Regions from separate parts of the Homo sapiens genome. Here region 2 is linked to region 1. The links come from fine-mapping of genetic effects on gene expression. A gene starts in region 1. The other region holds a variant in brackets. All regions are shown on one strand. Distances are between the middles of the regions. Region 1 holds the start of TSHZ2 (teashirt zinc finger homeobox 2). Region 2 overlaps LOC105372666 (a long non-coding RNA gene).

Region 1 (5,384 bases):
TGGGTCTGCAGAAGACCAGTCTTACCTAATGTTGCCTAAATCAAGAGGGTAAAGACAGAGAGAGAGGAAAAAACAACTAAACTTAAGCTTTTTGCGAAAGCCCTGATTCAACTAAAGGACACAAAGAAATAAAAACGCCCACATTAAAAGCCAAACAAGATAATAATTGTGCATGTCTGGCTCTGAATATAGAGGGCAAGGTTTGCGTCACTGGCACTCTGAGTTACCATGGTGAGTGATTTATTGATATATATCAAGAATGAATAGATCAAAGGCAGCGAGATGACAGGTGATCAATCAAATGTCAAATCAAAACTAGCAATCAAGTGGAAAGCTGATTTTTCAGTGGGTGGGTCTGGCAGAAGAAAAATGAACTTTCATATTACATTTCCGAGAAACAAAACCCCAGCATACTATTAAAAAAGCAATTAAGCAACCCAAAAGAAAAAAAAACTTTAGAAGGTCTATTGTACTGATCCATTAACCTGTTCTTATCTTTTTTAGGGGGCAGTAAGGATTCAGATGGGATAGTTTTTACAGTACGAATCATTTCACAAAGTTTGCAACTCTCTAGGCAAAGAAAATCCAGAGCTGTTTAAATTTCTATGGGGAATTTCCCCCCTACAACCCTTTTTGGTTTTTTTAAAGAATAGGGAAATTGTTAATTACATTTCCAAATATGGATCCTTTTAGAAAATATATGCAAAGAGTCATCCATTTCCTGGGGGCATTTTGTCCACCTTGGTGATCAACGCTAAACTCCTATTGCTGGCCCCAAAGCCTGCCTGCAGCCCGAGTGTTAGGTATGCCTCACACTTCAGCGCCCCAAGCCCCAGTGAGAGGAGACGCTATCCCTGGAGGCCAAAAGCCACTGGCACTGACCACGCAGAGGGATGCAGGGGTGGAGGGGCTGTCTCCCTACTCCGCACCCCAAATCCTCAATCCGACTTTGGCCCGAGAGGCAAGAAACAGACTGGAAGAAAGTTAGGGGTGGGGTAGAGGGTGGAGGAAAGAAAGTTTAAGGAGGAAAGGCTTGGTGGGATAGCTCACCCCAACCCAACCGGAGCTTGGAAGGGGAGGATTTGGGAGACCAGAGAAGGCGAGAGAGGACGGGGTTATTAGAAGGGCACCCGGCGCAAACTCCCCCGAAAGCTTAAGTGGGTGGTGCCCCCGGGCACCCAGGGGCAAGGAGGGCGGGCGAGGAGCTCGGCGCACAGGGCAGCCCCGAAGCGGAGCCGTTTCTCTTACCTGCCGCCCGCTTGGGTGCCTGCTGTTTTCTCCTCGGCATCCTCTACTTCGCTCCAGTCCCACTTCTGGCGCCCCAGCCCCGAGCCGCGCGCTGGGGCCCGCTGTCTCTCTGGCCTCTCTGGGTCTCCTCCGCCTCTTGCCCGGTGGCTCCTAGGACGTCACTCGGCCTCTGTCCCCCTGACGATCCCCCCTGCAACTCCTCCACCACGGGCCAGAGACCCCCCTCTCTGGGTGGCAGACACGGGTGGCTTGTGCCGGCTGCTTTGAAGTAGAGGTTGGTTCTGCCTTGTTTGTTTGTTTGTTTATTTTGAATTTTTTTTCCTCTCTCTTTTTTGTTTTTGCTTTTGGAATTTTTTTGGTTTTGTTTTTGCGGTTTTTTTTTTTTTTGGTGACTGTTGAGACACTTGATTTCTTTATTAAACATCCAAGCCCGGGTTCGGATGGAAGGGACGAGGGGCGCACACGCGCCACAGGCACACTCGCGCGTAAAGATAAGGAAAAAAAAAAGGCAATCCTGGGAAGGTAGTGGGTTTCTTCTTTTTCTTCTTCTTCCTTCTCCTCTTTCCCTCCTCCTCCTCCTCCTCCACCTCCTCCTCCACCTCCTCCTTCTTTTCTTCCTCCTCCTCCTCCTCCTCCTCGCCGATCTCTATGGCGGATTCGTGCCGGGGGGAGAGCGATCACTCACTGTAGGTTTGTGGCTGCTGTCAGATCCCCGTCTGTGAGTGATATGCGAGAGGACAGGAGCGGGTTTTGGAAAGACAGAAAATCTGGAATTCACTCACTCACACACACACACAGACACACACACAGACACTCACACACGCACTCACACGCGCACGCACCCCCGCTTCCTCGCACACACACACTCACACCCCCCACATATGCACACACACACAAACACACACACACACCCTCGCACACACACACAAGACAGGGCGAGGCGATGCCAGCAAACATCGATCCCGCTGAACAAACTGAACATTAACAAACTCCTCCTCCTCCTCCTCTCCCCGCGACCTGATGACAGGGAGAAATTTACTCCCCAGCCGCAGAGCGCCAGGCAGCGGGAGCCTATTAAAGGGACAGCGTCCCGCAGGGGAGAGGGGCTGGGGGCGGGGGCCCCGGCGCGCCGGCCCAGGCCCCTCTGTGCGCCCTCTCCGCCGGGGCGAGGGCGTGCCCACCGGGCGCGGGGACACCCCTCCGGGAGGCGGAAGGGGCGGGGGCGGGAGGAAAGGAGGTGAGGAGGGAAGGGGTGCGGGAGAAAAGGAGGCAGTGTGATGATGGCTGAACTCTGAAGCTGGGAGGCTGTGGAGGGAGATTCAGGGGGGCCAGGTTGGCTGACCAGCAGGGACCATGCACAATCTTAGGAGAGGGAGAACTTAGGTTTGCTCGGGGCTGGGAAGGGGGAGGGGACCTTATCCAGTGAGGATCTCCATCCTGTAAGTCTTAACCTGCCCCCACCAAAATGTGCTCCCCACGACCCCTTCAATTTAGTGCCCCTGTCCCTCCCACTTTCTCGCTAATCAATGGGTGGTCACAAAAACAAAAATCTCCCTTCTGTCTACTTTAAGGTCTAATCATATACTCCTCTTTTTGTTTCCTTTGAAGAATGTTTATTGAGCATCTACTATGTGCCTATTCTGGAGACACAGAGGCCACAGAGAAAGGGAAGGTGGTGGCCATGTTGGTATTTATATTCTAATGGGGGAGTGCAGACAAGTGCCCCCCAGCTATCCAATCTTTGCTTAAATGTCCCCTTTTCCCAAAGGTCTACCTCACCTAAAATACACACACACACACACACACACACTCCCTGCCCCATTTCTCCATTTTGTTATTCCCCAGTGAGCTGATCAGTGAGTGTCACACAGGTTATAGACAGTTTTCTATTCTGTTGATTGTACAAGTTCCCCTCTTGAATGTAAGCTCCAATGGAAGGAAGGATTTTTGCCTCTTTGTTCTCTTATATCCCCAAGTGCTGGCAAAGCACAAGACATATAATAAGTGCCCAGTAAAATATTTGTTGAATGAATGAAAAGTAAGCAAGCAAATAAACAGGATACTTTGAGTGATTCGCTCCATGAAGACGTTAAGCTGAGTGCTGTAATAGTGTCTAAAAGGGGGTGGGTGGCTCTAGATTCAATGTAGGATATGGCATTTGAGCACAGAGAGATTGAAACAAACATGTGATTATTGAGTTCTGCTATCGGCCAGGCACCTTTTGAGGTGTTGGGGGCAAGTCTGTGAACAAGGTGAACCTAGACCATGCCCTCAAGGAGTGCTCCTTCCAGTGAGAGGGCAAAGCAACTGAGGGCATTTGATGCAGGCTGGGACTAGAGGTGTTTTTTTTTGCTTTATTATTTTTTTTATTTCAATAGCTTTAGGGGTAAAAGTGGTTTTCGGTTACATGGATGAATTGCATAGTGGTGAAGTCTGGGATTTCAGTGCACCCGTCACCCGAGTAGTGTACATCGTACCCAATAGGTAGTTTTTCAGTCCTCACCCCCTTCCCATACTCCTCGCTTCTGAGTTGCCAATGTCCATGATATCTTTCCATATGCCTTTGCATACCCATGCATTAGCTCCCACTTATAACCAAGAACGTGTGGTATTTGGTTTTTGATCCTGAGTTACTTCACCTAGAATAACGGCCTCCAGCTCTATCCAAGTTGCTGTGAAAGACATTATTTTGTTCTTTACTATGGCTGAGTAGTATTCCACGGTGTATATATATGTGTGTATATACACACAAACACACATATATATACACAAATACACATATATAGATATATATACCACATTTTCTTTATACAATAATCAGTTGATGGGCACTTATGTTGATTTCATATCTTTGCAATTGTGCTGCAATGAATATACGCCTGCAGGTGTCTTTTTGACATAATGACTTTTTTTCCTTTGGGTAGATACCCAGTAGTGGGGTTGCTGGATCAAATGGTAGATCTACTTTTAATTCCTTGAGAAATCTCCATACTGTTCTCCATAGAGATTGTACTAATTTACATTCACACCAGCAGTGGGTATAAAAGTTCCCTTTTCCCCACATCCACACCAATATCTGTTGTTTTTTGACTTTTTAATAATGGCCATTCTGGCTAGGGTAAGGTGCTATCTCACTGCAGTTTTAATTTGCATTTACCCTGTGATTATTGATGTTCAGCATTTTTTCATTATGTTTGTTGGCCATTTGTCTGTCTCCTTTTGAGAAATGTCTATTCACGTCATTTGTCCACTTTTTAATGAGATTATTTTTTTTTTTTTCTTGCTGATTTGTTTGAGTTCCTTGTAGATTCTGGATATTAGTCCTTTGTCAGATGCATAGTTTGCAAATATTTTCACCCATTCTGTAGGTTGTCTGTTTGCTCTGATGATTGTTTCTTTTACTGGGTAGAATTTTTTTAGTTTAATTAGGCTCCATTTATTTATTTATTTTTGTTGCATTTGCTTTTGAGGGCTTAGTCAGAAATTCTTTGCCTAAGCCAATGTCCAGAAGAGTTTTTCTTAGGTTTTCTTCTAGAATATTTATGGTGTCAGGTCTTATGTTTAAAGTCTTTAATCCATCTTGAGTTAATTTTTATATATGGTCAGAGACAGGGATAGTTTCATTCTTCTACATGTGGCTATCCAATTTTCCCAGCACCATTTATTGAATAGGGCAGGGGTCCCGAACCCCTGAACCATGGACTAGCACCTGTCCATGGCCTGTAAGGAACTAGGTGGCACAGAAGGAGGTGAGCAGGTAGGGGTAAGCAAGCATTACCATTTGAGCTCTGTCACTTCAGCAGGGGCATTAGACTCTCATGGGAGCTCTAACTCTATTGTAAACTGTGAATGCAAGGGATCTAGGTTGCACACTCCTTATGAGAATCTAATGCCTAATGATCTGAGGTCAAACAGTTTTATCCCAAAACCATCCACCCTGCCCTGGTCCATGGAAAAATTGTCTTCCATGAAACCAGTCCCTGGTGAAAAAAAGGCTGGAGAACACTGGAATAGACCTTTTCCCAACTTATGTTTTTATATGCTTTGCCAAAGATCAGTTGGTTATAAGTATGTGGTGAAGGTGTTCTTAGGAGGAGTGATTACCCTGAACTTGGCGAAAGGAAGGATGGTTACCA
Region 2 (5,384 bases), 520 kb after region 1:
CAGATTTCCCAGTCTTGCTTGCAGTTGGGTGGGACTGCATGACTAAAAGATGTGTGAATAAAAGTGATCATGTACAACTTGTATATTTTGCCCTTAAAAGGAAGAGAGTTCTGACCTCTTTCTCCCTTCCCGCTGGCTGGAATGCAAACCACAATGGCAGCAATCCCGGGTCATGAAGGCAAAGGCAACATCATAGGGATAGAAAGAAATGAGATAGCAGCATCCAGGATTCCTAACAGAGTTTCAGAGCAGAGCTGCCAAATCAGTTGGACCTTTATTTCTGTGAGACTAAAATAAAATTATATTGTTTTTAAGTCACCGTTTTGGGGGTTTGTGCACAGCATACCATAATCCTAGCTTATACAGAGTTTGAGCTTTATTATCACAAGGGAGATGGGAAAAAAGAGCCAATGATGATGATTATCATCACCACACAATGGAATTGGGGTTTTTTGTTGTTGTTTGTTTGTTTTAGTTTTTTTGTTTGTTTGTTTTTTGAGGCAGAATCTCGCTCTGTCCCCAGGCTGGAGTGCAGTGGTGCGATCTCAGCTCACTGCAACCTCCGACTCCCAGGTTCAAGCAATTCTCCTGCCTCAGCCTCCCGAGTAGCTGGGATTACAGGCATGCACCACCACACCCAGCTAATTTTTATATTTTTAGAAGAGACAGGGTTTCACCATGTTGGCCAGGCTGGTCTTGAACTCCTGACCTCAAATGATTCATCCACCTCAGCCTCCCAAAGTGTTGGGATTACAGGTGTGAGCCACCGCACTTAGCCACAATGGAATTATTCCTATGAGACTTTAACACTCACTGGTGTGGGTTTTCTGTTGTTTTTTTTTTTAGAAACTTCACAGTTCTGCTAGAACTCTGTTCTACCTAAGATCTATTGCACTGATTTGTTCAAACAAAGCTTTGAGCCTTTACATTTACAAATGTAACCCAACCTTGCTTAATCTTGGCATTGTGTCTTCACTACTGAACTCCGTGGTGGCATTTGTTGAGCCCTTCTGAGATCTGAAAGATGTCACCAGATCATTGAGTTAAACGGAGCTGACGTAGCTGGAGCAGAACCCAAGATCCCGCAAGGATAGAGACGGGGCAAATTACAAATCTTATCATCATATCATCTCCCGAAAGATCCCATTTAAAGGCAAGAATCAAAGTTCTTGCTGCTCTGACAAGAAGGAAAAATGCACACAGACCACAAACAAATGTATCCTGTCTAGTGTGTAAGGAGACAAAGATGGTTCTCACACACAGAAGAGGAAAATAATATCTCTATTATCTTTAGTATGGATAAAACTGCCCTTTCTCTAACATTTTATCATCCCAGTTTGTTTCTTCACACAAGCAAAAGAAGAATCTATTTTTATAACATGATTTAATATTATAAACTTTTAATTATATATTATGTAAAATATCATTATAATAGGAACGATAACAACTAACCTTAATTAAGTGCCCAATATGTGCCTTAAATCTATTTTTCTCACTATAGTCTCAAATCACTTTATCAGGTGGGTATAATTGATAGTATGTTATGGATAAGGAGACTGACCCAGTGTATTAGTCCGTTTTCACACTGCTGTAAAGATATACCCAAGACTGAGTAATGTATAAAGGAAAGAGGTTTAATTGACTCACAGTTCCACAGGGCTGGGGAGGCCTCAGGGAACTTACAATCAAGGCAGAAAGAGAAGCAGGCGCATCTTACATGGCAGCAGGCAAGAGAGAGAGTGAGCAAGAGCAGGGAAAACTGCCTCATAAACCCATCAGATCTCATGAGAACTCACTCACTATCACAAGAACAGCATGGGGGAACCTCCCCGTGATCTAATCACCTCCCTCCCTCAACACGTGGGGATTACAGGTCCCCCCACTCCACACATGGGGATTACAATTGGAGATGAAATTTGGGTGGGGACACAGAGCCAAACCATATCACCCAGGAAGAAGATAAATAACTGGCCAAAGTCACTCAGCCAGGGAGTGGCAGGTCCAGAAATGAAAGGTAGGCAGTCAAATTCTAGAGCCTGCCTCCTAAAACATGATTCTATTTGACTGTTAACCACTTGTGGTGGACACCAAGATGGGCCACCTAGATCTACCTTCAAAGAACTTGTTGCCCAGCTACGGGAGCAGGGTCAGCAGACAGGCAGGTTGATCTCCTTCAGGGTCTGAACATGGAAAAAGACACTGCCCCAAGGTCATCTGAGCCTTGGGTTTTGTATAATAATACATTCAATAAATAATTTTTTTTTTTACTATATTCCAAGCACCTTCCTAGGAAAGAACACAGTAGACAGCGTCCCTGCCCTCAGGGTTCTCAAGGCATTTACTGGAGTAAGGTCAGTGGTTCTTAATCTTGATTGTTCATGAGACTCACCCAAGAATTGATTTGTGTTTTTATTCATTTATTTTAACCATACTCAGGTCCCACTGCAATTCAGTTGAATAAGAAAGAAGGAGAAGCTGTGAACTGTAGGTCTAAGGACTTCTCAAACTTTTTCACGTACATGGAGTCACCCTGGGCTCTTATCAAAATGTAGATTCTGATTCAGTAGGTCTGGGGAGCTGCTGCTGCTGCTGGTTCCAAACTACGCTGGATTAAAAAGAGGCAAAGAAGCAGAAGATAAGCACAGGTAAGGAGGTGTAGAGCCGCCCACACATGACATTCAATTATTTGATGTTTTTGCATAACAGACACAGACTCTATACAGGAGGAGGTTATCAGATTTAGAGAAACTTCTCAACTGGGCAAGGTGGCTCAAGCCTATAACTCCAACGCTCCAAGAGGCTTGACTGGTGGATTGCTTGAGTCCAGGAGTTTGAGACCAGCCTGGGAAACATAGCCAGACCCCATTGCTACAAAAAATAAAAACTTAGCT[G/T]GGTGTGGTGGTGCACACCTGTAGTCCTAGCTACTTGAGAGGCTAAGGCAAGAGGATCACTTGAGCCTGAGAGGTTGAGACTGCAATGAGTAGTGATCACGCCAATGCAAACCAGCCAGGGTTAGCAAGGCCTTGTCTCAAAAAAGAAAAAAAGAAAAGAAACTACTCAATACTCTATCACTGTTGTTTCTTAAAGGATAAAAACAGGCATACACACACACAAAAGAACAATATAGAACACAAAGTCATTTCTCCTTATACATTTAAATGTTTAAATAAAGCTTTGTATTACTTTTTGCATTTAGATGTTAATAATAAAGACTGTGTGAGCACGCGTGTGTGGCAATTCTGATGTATCAAGACTTTTCTTCTAGTCTAAACACAGTCATCTTCACAAGTAACTTTGACAATACACTTTCATTTTGCCAGGGTTGCCTGGGATGAAGTTTGCTCAGCCATTAAAAGGTGGGAAAGTCTCCTGCTGCTGTGTATATGAGAGAAAGCCACTGTTAACGTCATGTGTCAGCTACCCATCAATTGAGGCAGAGGAAGCAATTGGTTCATCAATGGGTTGGTAAGAAGCCCTCCAAACCTTAATTATCTGAGTGCCCCTCAGTTTCACTGGGCTTGTCACTGACTCCTTACAAGCTCAGAGGCAGACGAAAAGACAAACAGCACATCACCAACTGGTTAATTAGCAGTGAACACAAAGCAACCCAAATTACAAGCTCGAGAAAAGATGCCACAGATTTCCTTTTCATACACTGGATTCAAACATCACGGGCAAGGGGAAATGGCGAGTTTTTCATGTTCCAAAAGTATCTCAACTGCCCCCTGGGCTCTGCTTCAGAAATCAGGAAGCCAAATAATTCTTTTCTTCCCCAAAGAATTACAGAGGACCTACTGCATCCTGATCCCAAGGCTACGAAGGGGAATACAATGTGGCTGACTGAGTCATTCTTTCATGTATTCCTTCAACAAAGATATATTGTGGTCTCCTAATTCCTACTACATCCAAGTGCTAAGCTAGACACCAGGCACATGGTTATAAAAAATAAAGTCATGTGGCCAGGCACAGTGGTTCATGCCTGCAATCCCAGCACTTTGGGAGGCCGAGGCGGGTGGATCATCTGAGGTCAGAAGTTCGAGACCAGCCTGGCCAACATGTTGAAACCTCGTCTGTACTAAAAATACAAAAATTAGCTGGGCATGGTGGTGCATGCCTGTAATCCCAGCTATTCGGGTGGCTAAGGCAAAAGAATCGCTTAACTCTGGGAGGCAGAGGTTGCAGTGAGCCAAGATTGTGCCATTGCACTCTGGCCTGGGCGACAGCATGAGATTCTATTTCAAAAATAAATAAATAAATATTAAAAAAATAAAAATAAAGGCAGGTTTTTGACACATGCTACAGCATGGATGAATCTTGAGGAGATTATGCTAAGTGAAATAAGCCAGACACTGAAAGACAAATAGTGTATGATTCCACCTATACAAGACATCTAGCATAGTCAAATTTGGAGAGACAGAGAATTGAATGATGGTTGTCAGCCAGTGGGGGGGGAGGGGAAGGCAAAATTACTGTTTAGTGATTATGGAGTTTTCATTTGGGAAGATGAAAAGTCTGAAGATATAGTGATGATAACAGCATAAAAACGTGAATATACTTAATGCCACTGAAGCATACACTCAAAAAGTATTAAAGTGGTACATTTTATGTTCTGGATATTTTGCCGCACTTTAAAACAATTTTTTTAAAGACAGAAAACAAAGGCATGATTCCTGTCCTCAGAGAAATTACATTCTAGTGGGAAGGTAGTCATGAAATAAACTGAGAAATCAGCACATAACTAACACTGCATGGTACAATTGCTATAAAGAAAGGAAGGTCCCTCTCATTAGAATCAATGTTGCTAATCTATCTAAATACAAAAATAACCACCATATTATTTGCTTTATTTCATTTACAAATGGGTCCCTTTACATATTGACCTCTTGATTATGTTGAAGGTGTATAGATAAATCGTTCACTACCTAACTAAGAGGCCTACAGGCAGAGAATTTTCAAGATAAAGTGTTATGGGGTAGTGCCAATTGAAGATCAATCAGAAATTACAGTAAGCATCTTGGTAATTACAACAAAAGCTAATGGAAAAAATGATTTAACTCATAAAAGTTTACTATATACCCAGTCTTATACACACATATACCTATAAAATGATGTAATGAAAAAAATCCATATGAGGCTGCATGGTTTGCATATTTAATAGACACAGTTATTGCTTGTGAGCATAATATTCCATATTTACTTGTCTAATATTCCCTCTCCTGCTGATTATTTGAGCATTGCTGTTTTTCAAAAAGTTAAAACAGTATGTCACTTCAATCTCACTGCTATTGCGCAAAGGATTTAAACTTTTGTGCCTTTGTTTAAAAAAAAATTCTTAGCTAAAGCTTCTCATTAAAATGTAGAGAACACAAGCATCCTCAAATTTA

The links. PIP is the estimated chance that this variant, and not a neighbour inherited with it, causes the effect.
Region 2: its variant is fine-mapped to the expression of TSHZ2 in whole blood (TOPMed, PIP above 0.99).

Annotation. Positions count from the first base shown.
Region 1 is chr20:52,969,198-52,974,581 of GRCh38, reverse strand. TSHZ2 (teashirt zinc finger homeobox 2) reads right to left here and starts at 2,224. Exons shown (of 3, transcript NM_173485.6): 1 at 1,249-2,224. The coding sequence starts at 1,288.
Region 2 is chr20:52,449,580-52,454,963 of GRCh38, reverse strand. The region is part of intron 4 of LOC105372666 (a long non-coding RNA gene); the gene reads right to left. Among named protein-coding and RNA genes, the nearest start is that of LINC01524, 170 kb to the left of the region's middle. The variant G/T (reference allele first, on the strand shown) is at 2,892.